2 linked regions of the Homo sapiens genome follow. The protein of the gene in region 1 purifies or fractionates together with the protein of each later gene. This does not show direct contact. Each region holds a gene or a part of one and is shown on either strand. Other genes may lie near its edges.

Region 1 (6,837 bases):
AGATTCAGCAGTTATGCATAAACCATTAAAAATCTGAATTTCAGACCTAGAGAATTTCCAACCACCCCAATAAAACACACCAAAAAGTTAACAGACAAAAGATTTTGTATATACCAAACAATTCTCTTATTTCAAAGGAGGAGGAGAAGATGTGACAAAGATAAATAAAATGAGATTACTATCTTATAATAAGGTCAAATTTAAGATAAGTGTAATGTTAAAGCTTAGACACCTCTGGATTTTGTAAAGTCACATGCAAAGTTTTACACATACACATATTTTAGTATAACAAGGTATCACATTAAACAATATTTGCCCTCCTAAAAGAATATGAGGCAAGGATGGGCACGGTGGCTTGTGCCTGTAATCACAGGACTTTGGGAGGCCGAGGTGAGCGGATCACCCAAGGTCGGGAGTTCAGGACCAGCCTAACCAACATGGAGAAACCCTGTCTCTACTAAAAATACAAAATTAGCTGGGCGTGGTGGCGCATGCCTGTAATCCCAGCTACTTGGGAGGCTGAGGCAGGAGAATTGCTTGAACCCGGGAGACGGAAGTTGCAGTGAGCCGAGATTGCACCATTGCACTCCAGCATGGGCAACAAGAGTGAAACTCCGTCTCAAAAAAAAAAAAAAAAAAAAAAAAAAAAAAAAAATATATATATATATATATATATATATATATATATGAGCTAAAACTAAAGCAGAAATAAAACTGTCTTTGTATCTAGAAGCTCAAATTTAATTCCCACCTCTTCATATTTCCATCTAAAGCCATCTTAAAATAAGCAGTCATGAACAAAAAAATTCTAACAGTGAAAAACAAAAAGTTGTTGTAGAAATAAAATGAATGCATCATCTTTCTGATGAAAAAGAAAACTACATTTTCAAAATCATTGGTTGATCCATTTGGTTGCAACTTATCACCAAGATTATCACCAAACATCTTAATTAAGGTTTTATTTACTCTTAAGGAAATATAGAGCATTTCAAACAAAGCATCACTTGTGACTGGCACAAGCAGTTCCAGACTGCGAAGCCCTGCCATTAGGTACTGCATGACCTCAAGCAAATCACAGGACCTCTGTGGGCCACTGTTTCTTCATCTATAAAAGTGAGGCAGTTGGACAATCTTCAGTCACTTTCAGCACTAAAGTTCTATAAATCACTAATTCTAAATTTAATTCTGATGGGTCAGTTCAAACTTACATTCAATCTTATGGAAGGAAAAACGTGGAGAGGGAAATACTTAATAAATTGTTCTGGTCTTTTCTTGGTTCTCTTCTTTTTACCCCCCCTTCTCCCTTCTCCTTGAAACTCCACTTCAGTCTCTATCACGTAAGAAAATACATAAACAATATCTATACTACTTTAACTGTACCAGCTTCTTAAATTTAAGAAACCAAATTCCTCTACTTCTCTTTAATAAATAAGATCTTAATTATGCCGCTTATTTGTGTGCCTCTTGATTTTTCTCTTATGGATCACCACCTTAAAAAAGTTAAAAAAAAAAATAGAAAAGTCTTCATTAGATTTTTCACACAGACCAGACTAGAAGTAAATACAGCTTTTGCTTACTCAAAGGCTGACTAAACCAGCAATATGCAAACAAAGATGATAGCAAATGGCTCAGCTGAATTGGTAAAATGTCCGCTGTGTCTTTCTTGTAAGACCGCAAAATTGAGATCTGTTAATATCAACAATCCTTACAAAAGAGTAAGAAATAATAACTGATTGCCTTTGTCTCTTCCCTTTAATCTGACAGGCCTTCAAGCACTTAGTAAGTGCATAGCAAATTCTCAAAGAACTAGCTAAATATCATTTTGGTCAACAAGAAATGATTTGGCAAGTTTTATATCCAAAAACTTTATTTTTTGGAATCACTGCATATTCCAATTTTATCTTCATAAATATGTTTCAGAAATAAAATACTACTGCACTCATCTTTACAGAGCACCTAGAACTTTAAGGCACAGTAGGATGTATACTTGCCAGCCAAAATCTCATAACTACAATGACAAGTACTTCAGGAAAAGACTGAGCAATCTTTTCATTTACAGAAGGTTTTTAATTCAAGGCAGGCAAATTTTAAGAACAGTAATACAAAAGGAAGGCCAATACTCATCACTTTTTCTTTTTACACAAAATTGAAATAACTACGTTTCCTTAGAAGACAGCTTTACTTCTAAGGTTGTTACTCAGAACAAGTTTTCAGTGTGAATTATAAAACTTCATTTTTTTCTAATAGTAAATGAATCATTCTAGTCTTTCTTCCTCTATTTAATATTCACTTTTACTTGTTATCTAAATAATCTAATATTCATTTTTACTTATTATCTAAATAACAATTCATTTAAATTTCCATTGGGTTTCCAAAATGAAACATTTAATATAATTTCATTAACTTTAAAAAACAGAGAGGGAGAAAAAAATAAATAAATAACAGTCAATGAGCAACACCTATGGCTGAGTTGTCCCAAAACTTCACCCTTAGCTAAAATGCCAAAACAAAGCCACTGCCCCTGGATATTTAACATCTATATCACACAGGAATAATACGGTTTACTTAACTGTAACTTCAACTACCCCAAAAAATACAATTAGGTTTTTTAAATTAAAATTTGACCTTAGTTTGCTTTGTGGTACTTAAAAACAAATAAACAAACAAAAAACCTCTTTTATTCTTAAATTACATAGAAAAAAAATCACAAAGACATACAAAATGCTTTAGCAAGAAGATCTAAAACTTTCCAGAATTTCAGTGCTTTGTTTCCCCCTAGCAATTAAGTTCAATCAGGCATGTGACTGACCACACACATTTTATCAGAGGGTTAAAGAACACATTCAGCCATGTTCTTCAACAGGTAAGAACCACCCTCTGTTTATCAGCTCAAGAAAAAGCCAGAAGCAAACATACAAAATTGTAACAAGTTACCTTCAAGTATTCTTTCTCTATCGTCTTTTGAGCTTGAAAATAAAAAGCAATCCGACAAGTTTTAGCTGTTAAAATGGCTCCTGTAGATTGGGGAAGTGGTGTCTGTGCTTCAGCTTATGAGTCATACATGAAACCAAGTGTTTCTAAGGGAGGCACGCCCATGTTGCTGTGGACCCAATTATTCTGCTAGGTCAAACATGCAAATCTGCAGGTAAAAACGGTATAGGAAAGTGGGGATGAAGAGGCAAGGAGCAAGATCTACCTTGATTAGACCATTACTAAGCTCATATTAATTGCCATAATTTAAAACTAACAATAAAATAGAGTAAGAACCTACAAGGGAGCAAAATTAAAAACTATATATTGTTTTAAAATATAAAAATCTCAATTTTTAAAAGTTGCTTTACTATATCAAATAAAACTGTGAAAGGAAAAAAGTATGAAAGGGGATGGAAGGGAGATAGCAAACTCTGTGGCTCTTAATGTAACAATGGACTGGTGAGTGTAATCTGGCTACTCATTAACCCTCATATGAAAGAGATATATTGCTATGTAGTCTGGAAAGGCTAGCAAACTACAAAGCCAGATGCAGATCTGTAAGTTCACTAAACAGATAAAATCCACTAGAAAATTCAAAGTTCAGTGGAAAAATAAGTGTGAATTAAACTGGTTTACAGAATTTTTAAAAACCCACACTCCAATGTTAGGAATTTAAAGTCCAACAAAGCAAAATGATTTTAAATAAACTGCAAGCTTGATAAAACCCTTTTAAAAAAGTATTGGTACGATCATAGTTCATAACTCTACTACTTCCAAATGATAGCTACAGTTTGACTTACCTTTCAAGCAAAATTTTCTACATGTATTTCAAGCCTCTTGTGCCAGGCACCCTGCTACAGCTCCACTGCAATTGTGGCAAGGCCAACCTAAGGGGACAACTGTGGCCAGTGAAGCTCTGCCTTCCAAGTCAGAATACATCTGACAAAGTGCCCAAGCCACTGAAATATTACTACACCTACTTATTCTGGCCTCTGGGTGAATACTTATTAATTTATTCTAAGAGCTTAAATTAATCAAAATGGCTTGAAAGCACTAAGTACTTCCAAAGCGCTTGAAATGATAAATGCAACTCAATAGATAGCCTTCGTCCTGGTATCTTACAAAAAGTAAATAGGATTTAGCAAGGTTTTCTCCCTTTAGTTAATTAGTTGGGAGTTTATTCTGGCTTACCAGAGGCATAGTTGAGAGCACAAGCTGTCACTGACTTAGGAACTTTACAAAATGCTGCAAAACAGCAATGATTGTGAACCAACTTTCTGCCTGCTGTCTATTTATTCCTTACACTGAAGATTGCTTGGTTTATCCTTTTACTGAAAAATAATCTCCATGGTTTTACAAACTGTTAATTAAAAATTTATTAAAAAGAAATATAGACCATGTTTTCTCCTGTCAAATGTCATATTTAGCTTACTTTAGTTCACTTACACAAAATGACTATTCAGAGCCCATGCACCAAGAAACAAGGTCCGCTGAGCAGTCACGGGAGATTCACTTGTTCCCTGGAAAGTTCCCCCCAGGTAATTTTCCATATCTGAAATTTATTTTAGATAACATGAATGTAAACCTAACAATTTGATTATCTTCTTTTGGCTAATTAGAAATAAAAACTGTAACAGGTAAAAGAGGGCAACAGTATTATAAAAGGATGTCAGAAAAAGTGAAATAGCTGATAATGACATTAAAAAAACCCACCTTACAAAACTAAAAATAAACATAACTTTAAAAGTATTCAGATATGAAGCCATTATATAAGGTCAGTAAGTTGTAATATTCCCTAAGTATATTACCATACACTAAGTGTCTCCAAGTCAGCATTAGTTTAAGACAGGCCTTCGAAAGCCAAAGTGTGTAACATCAAGTGTGTGAGATGTTTTATGTAGAACAGGTATCTAAAAGGATAAGCTTCTGCTATTGAGAAAATCCATTTATATAATGCACCTCATTACTTAATAATGGCAAATATTCCAAACATAATTTAAAGGAAGTACTCTGGCCACCAGTAATGTGAAGAGAATTAAAGGGAAAATAATTACACCTCTTCAACAGAAACAAATATCTTAGCTGTTCCTAAGGAGATGACTCCAGAGCTGCCATTACAATATATTATCCCTCTGCCCAGGGGTATCCCTATTAGCATTATTCTATCACCTACAGGAACTGGATCCTTGTTCTATTTACAGCCCCAATAAGTCAATCTCTGCATATGAGAGGATCAAAGAGAAAAAAAAAGGCAAACAGTTTGACACAGGTTCTAGTCAATCTACTTGGGTTTCAATCCCAGCTCTGCTACCTATTAGCTATGTAATCTTGGGCAATTACTTAACAATCCTGCATCATAACTTATTTATCTATCATTTAGCCTAATAGTATCTACCACACAGATTATGAGGATTAAAATAAGTCCACACACTGCTATCCAGACTACATAAAGCACTTTCACAACTCAAAAATAGGAAAACAATCCAGTTTTTTAAATGGTCAAATCTGAATAGACACTTCACTAAAGAAGTCATACAGATGGCAAAAAAAGTACATGAAAATATCTCAACATCAATACTCAATAGGGAAATGCAAATTAATGTGACACCACCACAACAAAACAAAACAAAAACCACCAATAATACCAAGTGTTGATGAGAACATGGAGCGACTACAACTCTCATATATTGCTGGTGGGAATGCAAAAGTTTAGCCACTTCGGAAGATAGTTTAGCAGTTTCTATAAACATACACTTATCACATGATCCAGTAATCCCATTCCTAGGCATTTACCCAAGAGAAATGAAGATATGTGTCTATTTTAAAACTTCTATGCAAATATATATAGCAGTTTTATCATTCACCAAATATTGAAAACCCAAATAATGTCCATCAATGTGTGAATGGATAAATCCATGTAATGGAATGGTATAGTATATCCATATAATGGAATGCTACTCAGCAACAAAAAAGGTCTGAATTTCTGATATATGTGACAACATGGATGAACCTAAAAGCATTAGGCTGAACAAAATAAGACTGACTCCATGACTCTGTATGATTCCATTTATATGTGACATAATGGAAAAGGCAAAACAGAAGGCACAGAAATCCTATCAGTTCTAGGGGCTGGAAATGAGGGGAGGGGGTTGACTACAAAGGAAGACAAGGAACTGTTGAGGGTGACAGAAATATTCTGTATCTTGACTGTGGTACCGGTATATGACTTATGTACATTGTCAAAATTCATAGAGCTATAAAACTAAATAGGGCAAATTGTACTGCATATAAACCATACCTCAATAAAACTGATTTTAACAAAAAGAAATCTAGGCCAGGCACGTTGGCTCACGCTTGTAATCCCAGCACTTTGGGAGGCCAAGGCAGGTGGATCACTGAAGTTCAGGAGTTCGAGACCAGGCTGGCCAACATGGTGAAACCGTCTCTACTAAAAATACGGATATTAGCCAGGTGTGGTGGCAGACACCTGTAATCTCAGCTACTCAGGAGGCTGAGGCAGGAGAATCGCTTGAACCTGGGAGGTGGAGGTTGCAGTGAGCCGAGGTTGCACCACTGCACTCCAGCCTGGGTGACCAAGCAAGACTCTGTGTCAGACCTCCACATTTTGTAACAAATATCCAAGTTCTGCACATGTACCCCAGAACAGAAAGAAAGAAAGGAAGGGAGGAAGGGAGGAAGGAAGAAATAAATCTAGTTTAGGTATATGAAATGTACATACTGTGGGTATGTTTATTTATAAAATTAGATATGGATCAAGTCAGTATATACCTTATATAAAGCTTTCATGGCTGCTCATGGAATTGTCAACATGTATATTTGAACTATTAGCTGAGAGAGATTGAG
Region 2 (7,028 bases), on another chromosome or scaffold:
AGGTTGGAGAAAAATATTTGTGATTCATAGCACAAATGGCTAATATACTTAACTCTTAAAGAGCTTAAAAAAGTCATTCGCAAAAACCATCACCCAATAAATAGATAAGTGGGCAAAGGATGAGAACGAACAGTTCACAAGAAAGAGAAAAGATGCCAAATTTCACTCATGGGAGAAATGTAAACTGGACTGGAGTACTACTTTTCAACAATCAGTTTGAAAAAAGGTCAAATGGTTCATCGAGGCCACTTTGTCCTGACCAAGATTTGGGGAGTTGGGCACCCTCATGACTGGAGTGTCAATGGTTGAACTTCTATGGAGAGCAGCTTGGTGATAGCTAATGAAACGGCCCTTAACCCTTTAACCTTCACCTTTAACATACCTGACCCCAGCCATTTCCCTTCTAGAAATTGTTCTACAGACATATGTAATAACATATACAAAAGGTTATTCTTTCAGCAGTGTTTGTCATAGCGAGAGTGTAGAAACAACCTGCATATCCATGCTACAAAAAAGAGCCCATCCGCACTGTACAGCTGCAAAATGAAAGAGCCACAGGCGAGACATGCAATGCCCACAAAGCAAGGGGCAGAACAGCCATCACAGCACGGCAGGCTTATTTTGCATAACATAGAGAAAAAGGAGAATTCACATGCACCTTTGCTCGTGTGTACCTAATATTTTAAGAAGGACACCTGAGCAACTGGGTAGCCAGAAGGAGGGGCAGGAGAGAGACTTTTCACTGTTTACCCTCCTGCGGGTCTTGTATTTTCAACCATGTGACTACGGAACCTATTCACAAAGCATTAGTAAAATCTGTTACAAATCTAATTTGAATGTTTCCACGGGTGTATACATAAGTCAAAACTTCTCATGTAGTACACTTTTTTTTTTTTTTTTTTTGAGATGGAGTCTCACTCTGTCGCCCAGGCTGGAGTGCAGTGGCGCATCTTGGCTCACTGCAACCTCCGCCTCCCCGGTTCAAGCGATTCTCCTGCCTCAGCCTCCTGGGTAGCTGGGATTACAAGCACCTGCCACTATGCCCAGCTAATTTTTTGTATTTTTAGTAGAGATGGGGTTTTACCATGTTGGCCAGGCTGGTCTCGAACTCCTGACCTCATGATTTGCCTGCCTCGGCCTCCCAAAGTGCTGGGATTACAGGCGTGAGCCACCATGCCTGGCCATGTAGTACACTTTCAATACATACAGACACTTGACAGTGTCTACACAGGAATGAATCTAATAGAATATAACGTCCCAAGGAGGTGGGTGCGTTTGCTAAGCTCGGCTTTGCTGAAGCACCAGCATTGATTCATTCACTTCAACAAATTAATGCATTACTTAATCAGTTAACTATTTGAATTTTAATTAGTTGTGATTTAGCATTTGTTACTTATCTAGTTATCTAATGAGTTATTTATTTGCCCCTTATCTAATTAAATATCTGATGACTTGTTATTTATCACTTGTTATTTACCCAAAATAATTGGTTATTTTTTGCCATTTGTTATTTCTTGTCAATTTAATGAAATAGTTAAATCATTAAGACATTTGAGTGATATTATATTCAATTTACATTTACTTAATGTAAAACAACTGTATTGGGTAATTTAGATAATAATTCAATGATTGGGCAACACTTTAAGAATCTCCAAGCTCCTGTCTCCTTGCTGTCTCTCCTACTCTGACACAGCACGGGACGAATGCTAGGCATGAAATAAACATCTGCTGAATGGAAGATAAGTGAAATGCACGAGAACACGAATGAAAGCCTGAACCAGCGGACCCAGGAGCCCCCAAGGGCAAGGACTGGCTGGCTCTGCCCCTACTAGGGTCCCCACTACCACACTTGGTCTAACCTGGGGAATTCCTCACCCCCCAGGCCCCTCCCCCTCACACCTGGTCCTCCTCACACCCTGTCCCTTCCCCAACTCACCTGGTCCTTCTGGAGCCGCTGTCCCCTCCCCCGGCACACGATCCTCCTCGAACCCCATCCCCTGCCCCTCACACCTAGTCCTCCTTGCACCCCGTCACCTCCCCGTGTACCTGGTCCTCCTGGAGCCCCTGTCCCCTCCCCCTGGCACCTGATCCTCCTCGAACCCCATCCCCTCCCCACACACCTAGTCCTCCTGGAGCCCTTGTCCCCTCCCCCTTGCACCTGGTCCTCCTTGCACCCCGTCCCCTCCCCATGTACCTGGTACTCCTCATGCTGCTGCAGCAGCTGACAGCGGTGGCGGAGGAGCTCCTCCAGGCCCAGTTCCGGCTCCCGACACTCGCGCACACCCTGCGGAAAGTCTGTCACCAGGCTGTGAGGGACATGACAGCGGCCCTTAGGACCTCCCTCTAGAGGCCTCACTGACCCAACCCTATCGCCCGCCCCGTCCCCTGGCTCACTCAGGAGCCTGGCAAGTCGCTGCCCCACAATGGGCCTCCATTTCCCCATCTGCGGAATGGACCTCACGCTGCCCCTGGCCCAGGGTGGGTGCTGAGGGGCTCAGCACAGGGCCTGGTGCGTGTCAACTCTGGTGTGCTGTTGAGAGCTCCAGCATCATCTGATTAGACACTAATCCACTGGTGGGGGCGTGTACAGAAGCCTCTCTCCCTCCTGCAAGGCCTCTGTGCCAGCCCTACTGGTGAGGAAACTGAGGCTCCCTGACTCCTGCTCCTTTCTGGCCCCACACCCTTCCTCTCTACGGGAAGGTCCCAACTCCTGAGTCCCTACGGGCTGATTCCTGAGCCACCCCCACCTTGAGAGGACGGGGCCCCCACCCCAGGCCCCGTCCTCTCAAGGAGCCAAAGTACCTGCACAGGGCTCCAAGCACGTGCTCGTGGAAGGGGCTGTGCTCTGTCCGCACCAGGGCCACCAGCTGCTGGACCATCCCCATGGAGCACAGGGTCCCTGGGGGGAGGGCTGCAGGGGTCAGAGGGGCAGCCCCACCCATCTCCTATGCCCTCCCCGGGATGCCTGTTCCTCCCCTTCTCCCACACCTGCACCCACCCCAGGGCGTCTGCTCCCCACTCCTGCCCTCACTCAAGGGCTGCCACACCTTTGTGTTCAGGGTGGCCCACCAGCAGGTTCTGCAGCAGGAATGCTGATTTGACCTTGAGCTTCTGCACCTGCTGCTGCATGGCCCTCATCAACACAGAGAAGCCGTCCAGGCGGAGGAACTGCAGCAGCCCAGCCTCCTGCTCTCGGACCAGACCTGGGAGAGGGGGAAAGGTCCTGAGCTTGCAGTCACCACCACCACCACTGTCATCACAAGCACCATCACCAACATCATCACAACCACCATCACCAACATCATCATCACCACCATCACCACTATCTTCACCACCATCACAATCATCATCATCACCATTCTCATCCTCACCACCATCACCATCACCACCATCCTCACCACCACCACCATCACTATCACCATCACCACCACCACCATCACCACCACCATCATCACCATGACATCACCAACATCACCATCACTATCACCATCACTATCACCATCACCACCACATCACCATCACCGCCATCATCATCACTACCATTAACAATATAATTATCGTCAATCATCGTCACCATCATCACCACCAACCACTATCATCCCTTGCCATGGGCCTGCATATGCAAGCATTATCTTTTTTTGAAGTATGCTTTTGAGATATAATTCACAATCCACACAGTTCAGCCTTTTAAAGATATTCACAGGGTTGTATAACCATCACCACTAACTCTAGGAAATTTTCATCACCCCCCAAAGGAAACCTATGAGCAGTCATTCCCAATTTCCCTTCCCTCTGGCCCCTGCAACCACAGATATACTTTCTTCCTTTATGGATTTACCTGTCCCAGACATTTAATATAAATGTGTCCATAAAATACGTGACCTTTTGTGTCTGACTGCTTTCACTCAGCATGATGTTTTCCAGGTTCATTCATGTCGTAAGTGGTATCAGCACTTCATTCTTTTTCATGGCTGAATAACATTCCATTGTATGGATATACCATATTTTATCCATTCCTCCATTGATGGAAGCATCATCTTTTTTAATTTTTTTATTTTATTTATTTACTTATTTATTTCATTTTGAGATGGACTCTCGTTCTGTTGCCCAGGCTGGAGTGTGCAGTGGAGCAATCTTGGCTCACTGTAACCTCCGCTCGCAGGTTCAAACTATTCTTCAGCCTCAGCCCCCCAAGTAGCTGGGATTATAGTAACCTGCCACCACACCCGGCTAATTTTTGTATATATAGTAGAGACAGGGTTTCACCATGTTGGCCAGGTTGGTCTCAAGCTCCTGACCTAAAGTGATCCACCTGCCTGGGCCTCCCAAAGTGCTGGGATTACAGGCATGAGCCATTGCGCCCGGCTGTGTCATCTCTCTCTTTTTTTTTTTTTTGAGACAGAGTCTTGCTCTATCATCCAGGCTAGAGTGCAGTGGCACCATTTTGGCTCACTGCAACCTCTGCTTCCCAGGCTCAAGCTATTCTCCTGCCTCAGACTCCCGAGTAGCTGGGATTACAGGTATGCACCACTACACCCAGCTAATTTTTGTATTTTGAGTAGAGACAGGGTTTTGCCATGTTGGCCAGGCTGGTATTGAACTCCAGACCTCATAATCCACCTGCCTCAGCCTCCCAAGGTGCTGGGATTACAGGCGTGAGCCACCGTCCCCAGTCCGCAACATCTTTTAATCCTCACAATTATCCTGGAAGTGTGTGCTTTCAGAATTCTATTTTACAGATGAGGAAACTGAGGCCTAAAGAGCCAGGCTACACAGCATGCATGACCTTTATCCAGAGGGCAATGAGAACTCTGGAAGGACTCCCAGCAGGATGAGAACTGACCTTTGGAGTGCACCTCCAGTAAGGTGCCCCCTCCTGGGTAGGCTCTAGGCCTGTGCTGGCCAAGAAGGACAGAAGCTGCTAGTAGCTTGTGGCCACTAAACACCTGATATGTGGCCAGTGCAACTAAGGAAAAGAGTTGTTCATTTCATTTAAGTTCCATTCATTTAAACTTAAGGTGAAAAACTGAAGCAGTGTAAAATATTTTCCATTAAACACAACGTTGGCTGGGCGCGGTGGCTCATGCCTGTAATCCCAGCACTTTGGGAGGCCGAGGTGGGCAGATCACTTGAGGTCAGGAGTTCGAGACCAGCCTGACCAACATGGTGAAACCCCGTCTCTACTAAAAATACAAAATTAGCTGGGCGTGGTGGCGTGCGTCTGTAATCCCAGCTACTAGGGAGGCTGAGGCAGGAGAATCATTTGAACCCGGGAGGTGGAGGTTGCAGTGAGCCGAGATTGCGCCATTACACTCCAGCCTGAGCAAAAAGAGCGAAACTCCATCTCACACACACACAAAAAGAAAACCAAAAAAAGAAAAACACACACAACGTTGTTGCTCTGGCGCACTCCACACTACCCCTGAAAACTCAGCATGTTGCGATGTGCTTCATTTGTAAAATGCACACACTAGGTTTTGAAGACTTAGCATGACAAAAAATACAGTGTCTCATTAATAGTCCATATTAATTACACATTGAAATTATAATAGTTTGGACATATTGGGTTACATATTTATTTATTTTAGTTTATTTTATTTCATTTTTGAGACAGAGTCTCGCTCTGTCGCCCAGGCTGGAGTGCAGTGGCAGTTGGCTCACTGCGACATACGTCTCTCGGGTTCAAGCAATTTTTATGCCTCAACCTACCGAGTAGCCGAGATTACAGGCATGCCCCACCATGCCTGGCTAATTTTTTGGTATTTTTAGTAGAGACAGGGTGTCACCATGTTGGCCAGGCTGGTCTTGAGCTCCTGGCTTCAAGTGATCCACCTGTCTCGGCCTCCCAAAATGTTGAGATTATAGGCATGAGTCACCACGCCCAGCCAGATGTTATTTAATTAAAGAAAGAAAAAAGAACAGGCATGCATGGACTGGAAAACACAAAGACTCCTCTCATTCAATCTGTAAGCAAGGCCTGTCAGCTCTACCTTCAAAATGTACCCAGGAGAGACCTGTCCCCTTTACGCCAGGGTTTCTCCACCTGGGCACGGTTGGTATCTGGGGCCAGATCATTCTGGGTTGGGAGGCCCGTCCTGTGCATTGCAGGATGTTGAGCAGCATCCCTGGCCTCTACCCAGTAGATGCCAATAGTCCCTCTCTCCCAGCTGCGACAACTAAAAATGTCTCCAGACATTTGTCTAAATGTCCTGTGGAGGACACGATTGTCCCTGTTTGAGAACCACTGCTCCCTACCACAACCTTGATCTCTTGCCTAGGTTATCACCATAACCCCCCAGCTCACCGCCCACCTTCCACCCACCCTCGCCGCATTCACCCTCTTCTCTGTGCAGCAGTTGGGGGCAGGGATCACAGTATGGCTGCCGTCATTTTTGGAAAGAAAGCCAAAGTCATCACTGCAGCCCACACATCTCCCTTAAAAAAGTTACGCTTATTCAGCGCTAAAAAGAAATGAGCTATCAAGCCAAGAAAAGACATGGAAGAACCTTAAAAGCAGATTACTAAGCCAAAGAAGCCAGTCGGAAAAGGCTGCAGATTGCATGGTTCCAAGCATATGACATTCTGGAAAAGGCAAAACTATGGAGACAGTAAAAAGCTCAGGGGTGGGATGACTAGCGGGAGCACAGAGGATTTGTAGGGCAGCGAGATTCCTCTGTAGAATACTACAGTATGGATCCATGTCATGATACAGTTGTCCAAACCCATAGTACATACAGCATCAAGAGTGCGCCCCAGTGTCAACTATGGACTCTGGGTGACAATGAGGTGTCCATGTAGGTTCATCGATTGTAATAAATGTGCCACTCTGGTAGACTGTAACAAGGAACCACTTTGGAGTGGCTCCACAGAGGGCGAGCGAGTCCATCCCCTCCTGTCCTGGGAAGGGCAGTGGCACCACCGCCTCGGGCAGCAGGAGCTGAGGGGACGTACCCTGCAAATGGCTCCCAGCACGGAACTCCAGTAATGGTACTGGACAGCCACACAATGGCATACCCTGCAGCCACCAA

Evidence for each region. The genes of interacting proteins can lie anywhere in the genome.
Region 2: the proteins of ELF1 (region 1) and HSPBP1 purify together in Homo sapiens (affinity purification with mass spectrometry; 2 studies listed by BioGRID and IntAct, with this or other methods). This does not show direct contact.

Annotation. Positions count from the first base shown.
Region 1 is NC_000013.11:41,016,294-41,023,130, forward strand, and holds the start of ELF1 (ETS-related transcription factor Elf-1), read right to left. Parts: upstream 3,024-6,837; 5' UTR 2,935-3,023; intron 1-2,934.
Region 2 is NC_000019.10:55,263,084-55,270,111, forward strand, and holds part of HSPBP1 (hsp70-binding protein 1), read right to left. Parts: intron 3,204-7,028; coding exon 3,048-3,203; intron 2,900-3,047; coding exon 2,803-2,899; intron 2,307-2,802; coding exon 2,195-2,306; intron 1-2,194. UniProt on the Homo sapiens protein: Inhibits HSPA1A chaperone activity by changing the conformation of the ATP-binding domain of HSPA1A and interfering with ATP binding. Interferes with ubiquitination mediated by STUB1 and inhibits chaperone-assisted degradation of immature CFTR.